3 linked regions of the Homo sapiens genome follow. The protein of the gene in region 3 purifies or fractionates together with the protein of the main gene of each other region. This does not show direct contact. Each region holds a gene or a part of one and is shown on either strand. Other genes may lie near its edges.

Region 1 (3,500 bases), on a different chromosome or scaffold from region 3:
GCTAAGGGCTTTACATACATTAGTGGCTAATTCTCACAACAATCCTCCAAGGGAGGTTTCACTATTCTCATTTTACACATAAAGGAACAGGAGTTAAAAGGAGTTAAGTACTTGCCCAAAGTCAGCTGGTTCATCAGGAACCGGGACTCAAGGTCTATGCAATTCCCAAGTCCATGCTCTATTACACCATATTAGCTGGGGGACATAATAGAGCCTTAAAGTGTTCTAAGACCAACAGAAGCAAAACAAGTGAGCTCCAGTTTCCAGCTGGGATCTACAACCTCAGGCAACTGAAGCTACCTAACCTCTATTTCCTCATACATTACAAAAAGAAAAAGAAGTTATCTTCCAACTCTAAGTTTAATGATTCCATCACTTTTTTCCTTTCTTTACTTTCTCTTTTTCCTCCTTCCTCTGCTACCTCCTAATATGGTCCAAAATGTGTTGGATACATCTATATTTTTTAAAGAAAAAGGATCTAAAATTGCATGCAATTATAGCACTGATCTTCCAAACAGAGATTAGACGGGCATGGTTTCTTATGTACTTCAAGAGATCAATTTTTCAGTCAGCTAAAAAAAAAAAAAACACATGGTTCTCCTTAGTAGTCGTTAGAGCAGTACTGGCTTACTGGGATAGAAATACAGTAATACACCACTTTTCAGAATTCAGGTTTCTGGCAACCCATCAGACAATTAACCAGTTCTGGGGAGAAGGGACAGCCAAGAAATATTTCCCAAAAAGACTTTCCTAAATGCACACTCAATTTATAAAGGACAATAATATATTACAAGCTTTTCTCATTTTGCAATCTTATGATCAAAATTGAAAGCTAATTTCTAAGATAATGAAGGACTATATTAGAGAAATAGAGAACATTTTCCATAATAACCTATCTCCTTCTCCACCACCACCACTCTGACAAAAATGGAAAACGAAAAAAACAAACAACAAAAAAAAAGTTGTAATTCTCTAACTTACTACCTTAAAAAAAAATGGTAATGGCCAGGCGCAGTGGCTCATGCCTGTAATCCCAGCACTTTGGGAGGCCAAGGCGGGCAGATCACCTGAGGTCGGGAGTTCAAGACCAGCCTGGCCAACATGGAGAAACCCCATCTCTACTAAAAATACAAAATTAGCTGGGCGTGGTGTCGGGCGCCTGTAATCCCAGCTACTCCGGAGGCTGAGGCAGGAGAATCGCTTGAACCCGGGAGACGGAGGTTGCAGTGAGCCGAGATCACGCCATTGCACTCCAGGCTGGGTGACCAAGGGCGAGACTCCGTCTCAAAAAAAAAAAAAAAAAATGGTAAATATATAGAAACAGTAACCAACCACTTAGGAAGCCAAAAAATAAAATGGTTTTTAACTTCCAGATACTAACCCCCAGTCATGATCTGTTACTAATTCCTTACCCTCTTCTTCTCACCCAACCTGGGGTTGGGGTGGAGATCTAAAATCCTTTACAGATGTTCCATCTAATTTCCAGACAAAATTATTACCTGTTTCCACACCTGTGTCTCCTGAGTGTGTCACCTCGTTAGGTTCAATTATTCTTAAATTTCTCAGTTGAAAATCCTGGTGATTCACCCTTAAGGAGAGAAAGAACAGGAAGTTGCAGACTTTGACCACAATAAACGTGGCAAGGCTCAGTTAGAGGAGGCATCGCTTAACTTAGCAGTTCTCTAACATGAGTCAGAAGAACTTTCACCCCCATTATCAGTGGCAGAATAAATAAAAGTTTGATGTAAAACTTGCAGGTGTAAAACATCCCCATGGCAGGTTAACCTTCTCAGTTGCAGCTTCTAGTTCATAAATTCTCACACCTCCTATTTAACTAGACTAAGAAGACTTATTTTCAATGTTTTTTCCTTACACAAGTTCTATTTGGTTCTTTTTCACATCTGCCCGTTCTTTCTTTATGGTGTCCTATTCTTGCACTCTGGTTTCTATGCCTTCTCTTTGTGCCTTCATTACTGTAGGCCCTTATTTTATAATTTCTCCCATACTTTCAAATAGATCTTGGGAGACTAACCCTCATGTTTGCTAGGTCTGCTGCCTCTCCCTCTTGGTGGTTCATTCCTTCTGCGTTTTGTGATCTTTTATTAAGAGCTTATCTTCAATAGAGGCTATTTATCTATGAGAATGTGATGGGTCCTGGTTTGTACAAGCAGTTCTGTTATTGTTTGCTTCTAAGACTTTCACATTAATTTATTAGCTAGAAGATTTACACACAAACTTCTTGTTCCCATATGGGGATAGTCTAATGCCCTGGACACCAGGCATGAAGGTCTATATCTGCATCTGGTAACTTTCCCAGGCTCAGGTTACTAGCATACCACTCAGGCGTTAGGTTCCCTCTACATTTTTGGCACTTGAGGATTTCTCTTTCTTTCAAGTTCATTCAGTCAACAAATATTTATTGAAAAATCTTCCATAATCCAGGCCCTATTCTGGACACAACAGTGAACAAAACAGACAAGATCTCTGACTTTAACAAATTAAGATGGGGCAAGGCAGGGGGATGGGCAGAAGACAGGGAAGAGAAGGCAACAGACACAAAACAAGTACACAATACGTCAAGTAATAAGAACGTGTTTTGTGAAAAAAAGTAAAGCACAGCAAGGGGAAGAAAGCATCAAGGAGGTAAGGGGAAGGATTATTTCATATGGGGTAGCCAGGGACAGCCTCTATTATAACAGACAACATTTTAACACAGACCTAAAAAGAGTGAGGAAGCAAGCCATGTGAACGGCTAGGGGAACAATGTTCCAGGACAACAGCAAGTGCAAAGGCCATGAGGCAGGAGTATGTCTAGTTTACCTGAGGAAAAGCAAGAAGGTCAGCGCAGTGTGATTGTATCAGGGGATGGGGAGGTAAGTGGTTCAGAGACAACATCATTGAGGCACCAGGGGGCCTACTGTGGGGCCATAGAAAAGGTTTTGAATTTTACTCAGCTATGAACTCAATTAAGTTATAATTTAACCGCATTTTTACATGTTGGTAAAGACAGAGAGGGACACATTAGCTCAGTCTACCACACGGTAAGAACCAGATAACCAGGCAGCTTTACCAATGACTCTAGGCCTGCTTTCATATGGCTGTGACTTTAGTTTTACTGGACAGAATGGGATGTTCTTAACGAGAGTAAACATATTATTCTTTCATAAAAAAGTAAGACACCCCAATATGTCTTCTAAAATATAAATACAAATATCCTCAACAAAATACCAGCAAACGGAATCTAGAACAATATAAAAAGGATCATCATCGCCAAGTGGGTCTTATCCCAGGAATACAAGGTTGGCTCAATATATGAAAAATCAATTATTATAACAGGCCATATCAATAGAATAAAGAACAAAATCTACATGGTCTTCTCAACAAACGCAGAAAAAGCACGACAAAATCCAATGCCCCTTCAAGTTAAAAGTACTCAGCAAACTAGAAGAAAAATTCCTCAACCTGACAAAAGTTATTACAAAACCTACAGCTAACATCAT
Region 2 (3,010 bases), on a different chromosome or scaffold from region 3:
AGTGTAAAGAGATAAATTATTCATGTAAAAGTATTTCAAGTAGTGATGATTTAATTACATTGTTCGATGTTTGTACAGGAGTAAGCATGTATTTTTATCAATTTAACACAGATCAAAGGAGATGAAGGGACATTCTGCCATGACATACACTTAACCAAAACTATTCAAAATGAAAACCGGATTTCAAATAACCAGACACCAAGATGCAGGGCCCTTATTTTAAACCTTTTTATTTGGTTAGAGTGATATGTATTTAGCCATAGATGGAGAAACAAAGCTCAGGGTTTGTTGAATTAGCATGAGAGAAAATTATGTACCAACAGAATTATTTGTGAGAAGAATGAACAAATTTTGATAAAGTATGAATTTGTTTTATTTTAAAAAGCAAACATACTAAATTTTTTTTATTTTATTGCTTATAATTTATTAAGAATGTTTACACCTGTATAAGGATTTCATATATACATTGTATGTGTGTATATATAAATACATATATGACTGCCTAAATTGTTTATAAATTTAATTTTTCTTTAATAGGTTTCATTCCTTCAGAGCTCCATTAATGTAATCAAAATGAAATATAGATTAGTTTAAATGTGAATTCAGTGACTCTAGGGCCAAAGAATATTAGGTATGTTTGGAAAGAATTTTTGTATTTATTCCTGTTACAGTTTTGACTTTCAACTTCTCTCCCCGTGCATGGAAGTCCTGGTAAAGGATCTAACATCTTTATTCCCTTCTTTCCTCTTCCAGCTGAGCAGAGTTGGATAATTGAATTAGTCATTCTGACATTCTTTGGACCATATCATCTTAGTGGTTTGGGGTCAGTGCTCATCTGATATATCTTTCTTACCACCTCTTCTACTTACTTTCTCTTACTTAAATTATCTGGCATAAGCAGTTATCTCCAGCTTTTGTTAGAATCTTGCATGTTGATTACTAAAACTATACTTTGTTTCCCATTTATTTATTACCCTTTTGCATGTATTTGTGTGACAGGGAACTCTGCAGCAGGGGGTGACTGACACACCAAACAAGATGTTTCACTGGGTACTCTGCCATAGAAATGGCAGATTAAGAAGATTGACTATACCAAACATTATATTAAAAACACAAAATAAAAACTATAAAAATGTACTTTAGGACATTAAAGAAAACTCAAGTTAGAAGCATACCATTTTCCTTTCATGGAAGGGTACAGTATTACAAAGATAATTTGTTTAACTTGATTTATTAAATTCTAGTTATGTGCCCTATAATGATGTTTCAGTCAGTGACAGACCTCATATATGGCAGTGGTTCCATAAGATTACAATACTGTATTTTTACTGTACCTTCTTTATGTTTAGATATGCAAGTACTTACCATTGTGTTACAGTGTCCTACAGTATTCACTACAATAATATGCTGTACAGGTTTGTAGCCTAGGAGCAATAGGCCATAGCTTAGGTGTATAGTAGATCATACCATCTAGGTTTGTGTAAGTACACTCTGTGATTGTACAATTTTAAAATCTCCTAATGATGATGCATTTCTCAGAATGTATCCCCTTTGCTAAGCAATGCATGACTGCAATCCTAATTCTCACATGTTTTGGGGAAAAAATTTTAATTTTGAAAAAATTTAGGAAAGTTCCTACCAAATATACATGTATAAAGTTTATTAAAAGTCATAATGACCCAGGAATAGCTAATGACACAGAAGTAGATCAAAATAGAACACAATAGAGAACTTCAAAATAAAACAGGTGTGAGAATTGTGTGTGTGAAAAAGCTGGGTTCAAATAAGTTGGTTTGTTAGACATTCATATGCCTACCCATCAGCCATTTCGTTCTCCCTTCCTTGCTGACAAAGCCCCATTTTTTTTTTCTTTTTTTTTGGCCTAAAACTCTGTATGGCTGCCTTGTGCTATAGAATAGGGTGCTTCCCTAGCCTAGAGAGGGTGAGTGTTGATTAGATTCTGTGCCAATCATGGTAATTGGCTTACTTGATCATTTGATGGAATCTAGGCTAACGAGACAAAGGAAGTCTGAAGGCTTTGAATAAGAAATTTTCTGTTGCTCTTAACAATTGATACAAGTTAGGGATTTGCCAGCATCCCTCTTCTGCTTCTCAGTGAAGATATGTGATATGGATGTTTGAAGCTAATCTGCAACAGCCTTCTGATGGCCATGAAAGGACAAGTATGGAGATGAAAGCTATCACACTGAGAATAGTGGGATGTAGATAGAAAGCACCTGAATTGTGCTTCTGAATTAACCAATCCAGGAACTGCTTTACCTTTGGACTTTTTGTTATGTGAGATATTCTTTATATTGTTCCATTTGCTTTGGGTATATGTATATTGTTACTTGTAGCCAAAAAGAAACCTCTCTTAGTAGAAACAAAGGGAGAGTTAGGTTATTCAAAAATTAGTATGGGACAATTGAATATGCCTTTTTCTGCGGGAGTAGGTGGGGAGAAACTTAAAGGTTCACTTGTAAAACAATAAAGTACTAAAGAAAATGTGATAATACTTTCGTGATTTTGTGGTGGAGAAGGCCTTTCCAACACACAAATGTAGGAAATCATAAAGGAAAACTATAAAACAAAGAAATGTAGTAAAATCTCTTCAACAAATAGTGTTGGGAAAACTGGACATCCACATACAAAAGAATGAAATTGGATTGTTGCCTTAATGCCATACATAGAAATCAACTTAAGGCCGGGTGTGGTGGCTCAAGCCTGTAATCCCAGCACTTTGGGAGGCCGAGGTGGGGCAGATCATGAGGTCAGGAGTTCAAGACCAGCCTGGCCAAACAGTGAAACCCTGTCTCTACTGAAAAAAATACAAAAATTAGCTGGGTGTGGTGGTGGGCGCCTGTAGTCCCAGCTACTTGGGAGGCTGAGGCAGGAGAATTGCTTGAACCCGGGAGTCGGAGGTTGCAGTGAGCCAAGATGGAGCCACTGCGCTCCAGCCTGGGCGACACAGTGAGACTCTGTCTCCAAAAAAAAAAAGAAATCAACTTAA
Region 3 (3,500 bases):
TGTATCCACGGGAGTAGCACTTTTAAATTTCTTCAATAGCTTTTCCTTTGCATTCACAGCTTGGCTAACTGTTTGGCTCAAGAGGCCTAGCTTTTGACCTATCTTGGCTTTCAATACACCCTCCTCACTAAGTTTAATTATTTCTCGGTTTTTATTTAAAGTGAGAGACCTGCAACTCTTCACTTGAACACTTAGAGGCCACTGTAGTTACTAATTGTCCTAATTTCAATATTGTTGTTTCTCAGGGAATAGGGAAGCCAGAGGAGAGGGAGAGAGAAGGGGGAACAGCCAGTCCAGTGAAGCAGTGAGAACACACACCATCATGAACCATCATGGCCACGGTTTGGCCAACACAATTACAACAGTAACATCAAAGATCGTCAATCACACATCACCAGAACAAACATACTAAAAATGAAAAAGTTTGAAATATTGTAAGAATTATCAAAATGTGACACAAATTGAGCAGATGCCATTGGAAAAATGACTCCCATAGACTTAAAACACAGGTTGCCACAAACTTTCAATTTGTAGAAAAACACAGTATCTGTAAATTGCAGTAAAGCAAAGCACAAAAAATGATGTATGCCTGTATTTTTTTTTCTATCCACATCCACCCCCCAACTTTTTTTTTTTTTTTGGTAGAGACCAGGTCTTGCTATCTTGCCCAGGCTGGCCTTGAACTCCTGAGCTCAAGTGATCCTCTCACCTCAGCCTCCCAAAGTGCTGGGATTACAGGCATGAGCCACTGCGCCCAGCCCCCATCCCCAACTATTTTAAAAGTCTAATTACTTTTTGACGATTGCCGACTTACCTATAGAAGTGTTCCTTTCAGCCCGGCGAGGTGGCTCACCCCTGTAATTCCAGCACTTTGGGAGGCCTAGGTGGGCGGATCACGAGGTCAAGAGATCGAGACCACCCTGGCCAACTTGGTGAAATCCTGTCTCTACTAAAAATACAAAAATTAGTGGGACGTGGTGGCATGCACCAGTAGTCCCAGCTACTCAGGAGACTGAGGCAGGAGAATCGCTTGAACCTGGGAGATGGAGGTTGCAGTGAGCCGAGATCGTGCCACTGCCCTCCAGCCTGGAAACAAAGTGAGACTCCGTCTCAAAAAAATAAAAAGAAGTGTTCCTTTCATCAACTATGAATGGATCAAGACTATGAATGTTTCTGAGAAAATTATTGCTGTTAGTAAGAATGTTTTTAGTGTTTAAGGGTAGCTTTGGGGCACAGAAAAAAACAAACGTACATTTATAAGAAAAAGGGGAAAGAGCCACTGTAGTATACCTGTTTTACAGATGAGGAATCTGAGACTCTTAGAGACTTGTCCACGCTAGTAAATGAAATGCCCAGTACCAATCCTGGGCCGTATTTCCACTTAGTGTCTCAGAATTACCTGGACTCTGTTAAAAATGCACATTTCTGGGCTCCACTGAGACACGTTGAATCAGACTTTCTAGGGCTGGAACTGTTATTTTTTTTGAGACAGAGTCTCGCTCTGTCACCCAGCTGGAGTGCAGTGGCATGATTTTGGCTCACTGCAGCCTCTGCCTCCTGGGTTCAAGTGATTCTCCTGCCTCAGCCTCCTGAGTAGCTCTGGGATTACAGGTGTGCACCACCATGCCTGGCTAATTTTTGTATTTTTACTAGAGATGGGGTTTCACCATGTTGGCCAGGATGGTCTCAAACTCCTGACCTCAAGTGATCCATTTCACCTTGGCCTCCCGAAGTACTGGGATTATAGGTGTGAGCCACTGCACCTGGCCTGGAACCTTTACTTTTACCAAACTCTCCAGTGATCCTTATACCATGAACCGCTTGGGTCCCACACTCCGGTGCTTTCCTGGACCCAGACAAAAATAAGAACCCAGCATAGCCAAATTAACAGTCACGACAGGCTGGAAAGAGTGCGGTATATGGGCCTCAGTCACCCATTATTGGATGGATGGATTTTAGTGCTTATTTATAAGGTGATTTGTAAACTTTCCCATATGGTCACATTTATTCAGCACAATAATACAATTAATTCCCTGGGAATGAAGTAGCTTTATCCCAAGTGTTTCCAAACAAAACTAACTGAAATGTTCCCAGGTTATAGACAGTTGCCTGCACCCAGTCCATCTGTTCCGGCCCAGCTGGCAGTAGAAAGACTGGTCCTGGTTGTGAATCTGAGCAGCTCTCTCCCCTAAAGCCCCGCCTGGGAACTGCAGTGCCTCTGGTTCCATTTGTCAGCTGTGTCTCTCTGAAAACTGGGGAAAGCTTCCCGATGCCTTTCTGCTCTTGGCAGTGTACCGTTGATGGCATTGGCTGGAACTTCTTCACCCCGCATTTTTGTTAGGTGCAGTGCAAGACCCTGTCGGAGACTGAAAACAAAATGTAAAGGTGGTCTTAGCACTGAAGCCTGGGGGCTCCTGTGGCTGCGCCTTTGGTCTATTGTGAGAGGGGGAAAAGCCAGCTCCCAGTGCTCATGTGCTGCTGAGAACATATCATAGGGTGGTGGCGAAGGTAGCCTCTGCAGTCACTCATCCCAGAAGGTTCCATAAAGAGCTGAGCTCCTAACACTTTTTTTTTTTTTTGAGACGGAGTCTTGCTGTGTTGCCCAGGCTGGAGTGCGGTGGCACAATCTCGGCTCACTGCAACCTCTGCCTCCCAGGTTCAAGAGATTCTCCCGAGTAGCTCAGATTATAGGCGCCTGCCACCACACCCAGCTAATTTTTGTATTTCTGGTAGAGACGGGGTTTCACCATATTGGCCACGGTGGTCTTGAACTCCTGACCTTGTGATCCACCCGCCTCAGCTTCCCAAAGTGCTGGGATTACAGGCGTGAGCCACCGCTCCTGGACTTTTTTTTTTTTTCTTTTTTTAAAAAGAAATTGAGTCTTGCTCTGCCACCCAGGCTGGAGTGCAGTGGTGCAGTCATAGCTTACTACAGCCTCAAACTCATGGGCTCAAGCGGTCCTCCAGCTTCAGCCTCCCAAGTATCTGGGACTACAGTCACGTGCCATCACGCCCAGCTAAATTGTTTATAGAGATGGGATCTCGTTATGTTACCCAGGCTGGTCTCAAACTCCTGGTCTCAAGCAGTCCTACCGCCTTGGCCTCTCAAAGTGCTGGGACTACAGGTGCATGCCACCATGCCAGGCCTTCTACCACTTTTACCTAGGCCTGCTCACCCCAGGCTGGCACCTCCCTCAGAGGTGGGAGGTGAAGGTGGCTGCTGCTGGGCATTTAGGAGGTACAGGTGCAGACTATGTTGTGGATTCTCAGAGGACTGAGAAGCTCTCTGTCTCTCTCTCTAGGAGGCTTTGATAGTGTTATCAAAGTGGGTCTCCAGTGTTTCTGGAACTTTCCTCCCCTTCCTTCCTTACCTAATTCCTTCTTTAAATTCCAGGACCTGGAATTTATCCTGTCTCGACACTTCTTGTCCAACAGTGAGCCCCCTGTCTTCACCCCCCTAATCCCCTGTCTTCACATCCCTCTTCCCACTTTATTTGCTT

What was found. The genes of interacting proteins can lie anywhere in the genome.
Region 1: the proteins of MTHFD1L (region 3) and XPNPEP1 fractionate together in Homo sapiens (co-fractionation; one large-scale study listed by BioGRID). This does not show direct contact.
Region 2: the proteins of MTHFD1L (region 3) and TRAPPC6B purify together in Homo sapiens (affinity purification with mass spectrometry; one large-scale study listed by BioGRID and IntAct). This does not show direct contact.

Annotation. Positions count from the first base shown.
Region 1 is NC_000010.11:109,913,512-109,917,011, forward strand, and holds part of XPNPEP1 (xaa-Pro aminopeptidase 1), read right to left. Parts: intron 1,589-3,500; coding exon 1,500-1,588; intron 1-1,499. UniProt on the Homo sapiens protein: Metalloaminopeptidase that catalyzes the removal of a penultimate prolyl residue from the N-termini of peptides, such as Arg-Pro-Pro. Contributes to the degradation of bradykinin.
Region 2 is NC_000014.9:39,147,314-39,150,323, reverse strand, and holds the end of TRAPPC6B (trafficking protein particle complex subunit 6B), read left to right. Parts: 3' UTR 1-2,510; downstream 2,511-3,010. UniProt on the Homo sapiens protein: Component of a transport protein particle (TRAPP) complex that may function in specific stages of inter-organelle traffic.
Region 3 is NC_000006.12:150,872,202-150,875,701, forward strand, and holds part of MTHFD1L (monofunctional C1-tetrahydrofolate synthase, mitochondrial isoform 2 precursor), read left to right. Parts: intron 1-3,500. UniProt on the Homo sapiens protein: May provide the missing metabolic reaction required to link the mitochondria and the cytoplasm in the mammalian model of one-carbon folate metabolism complementing thus the enzymatic activities of MTHFD2.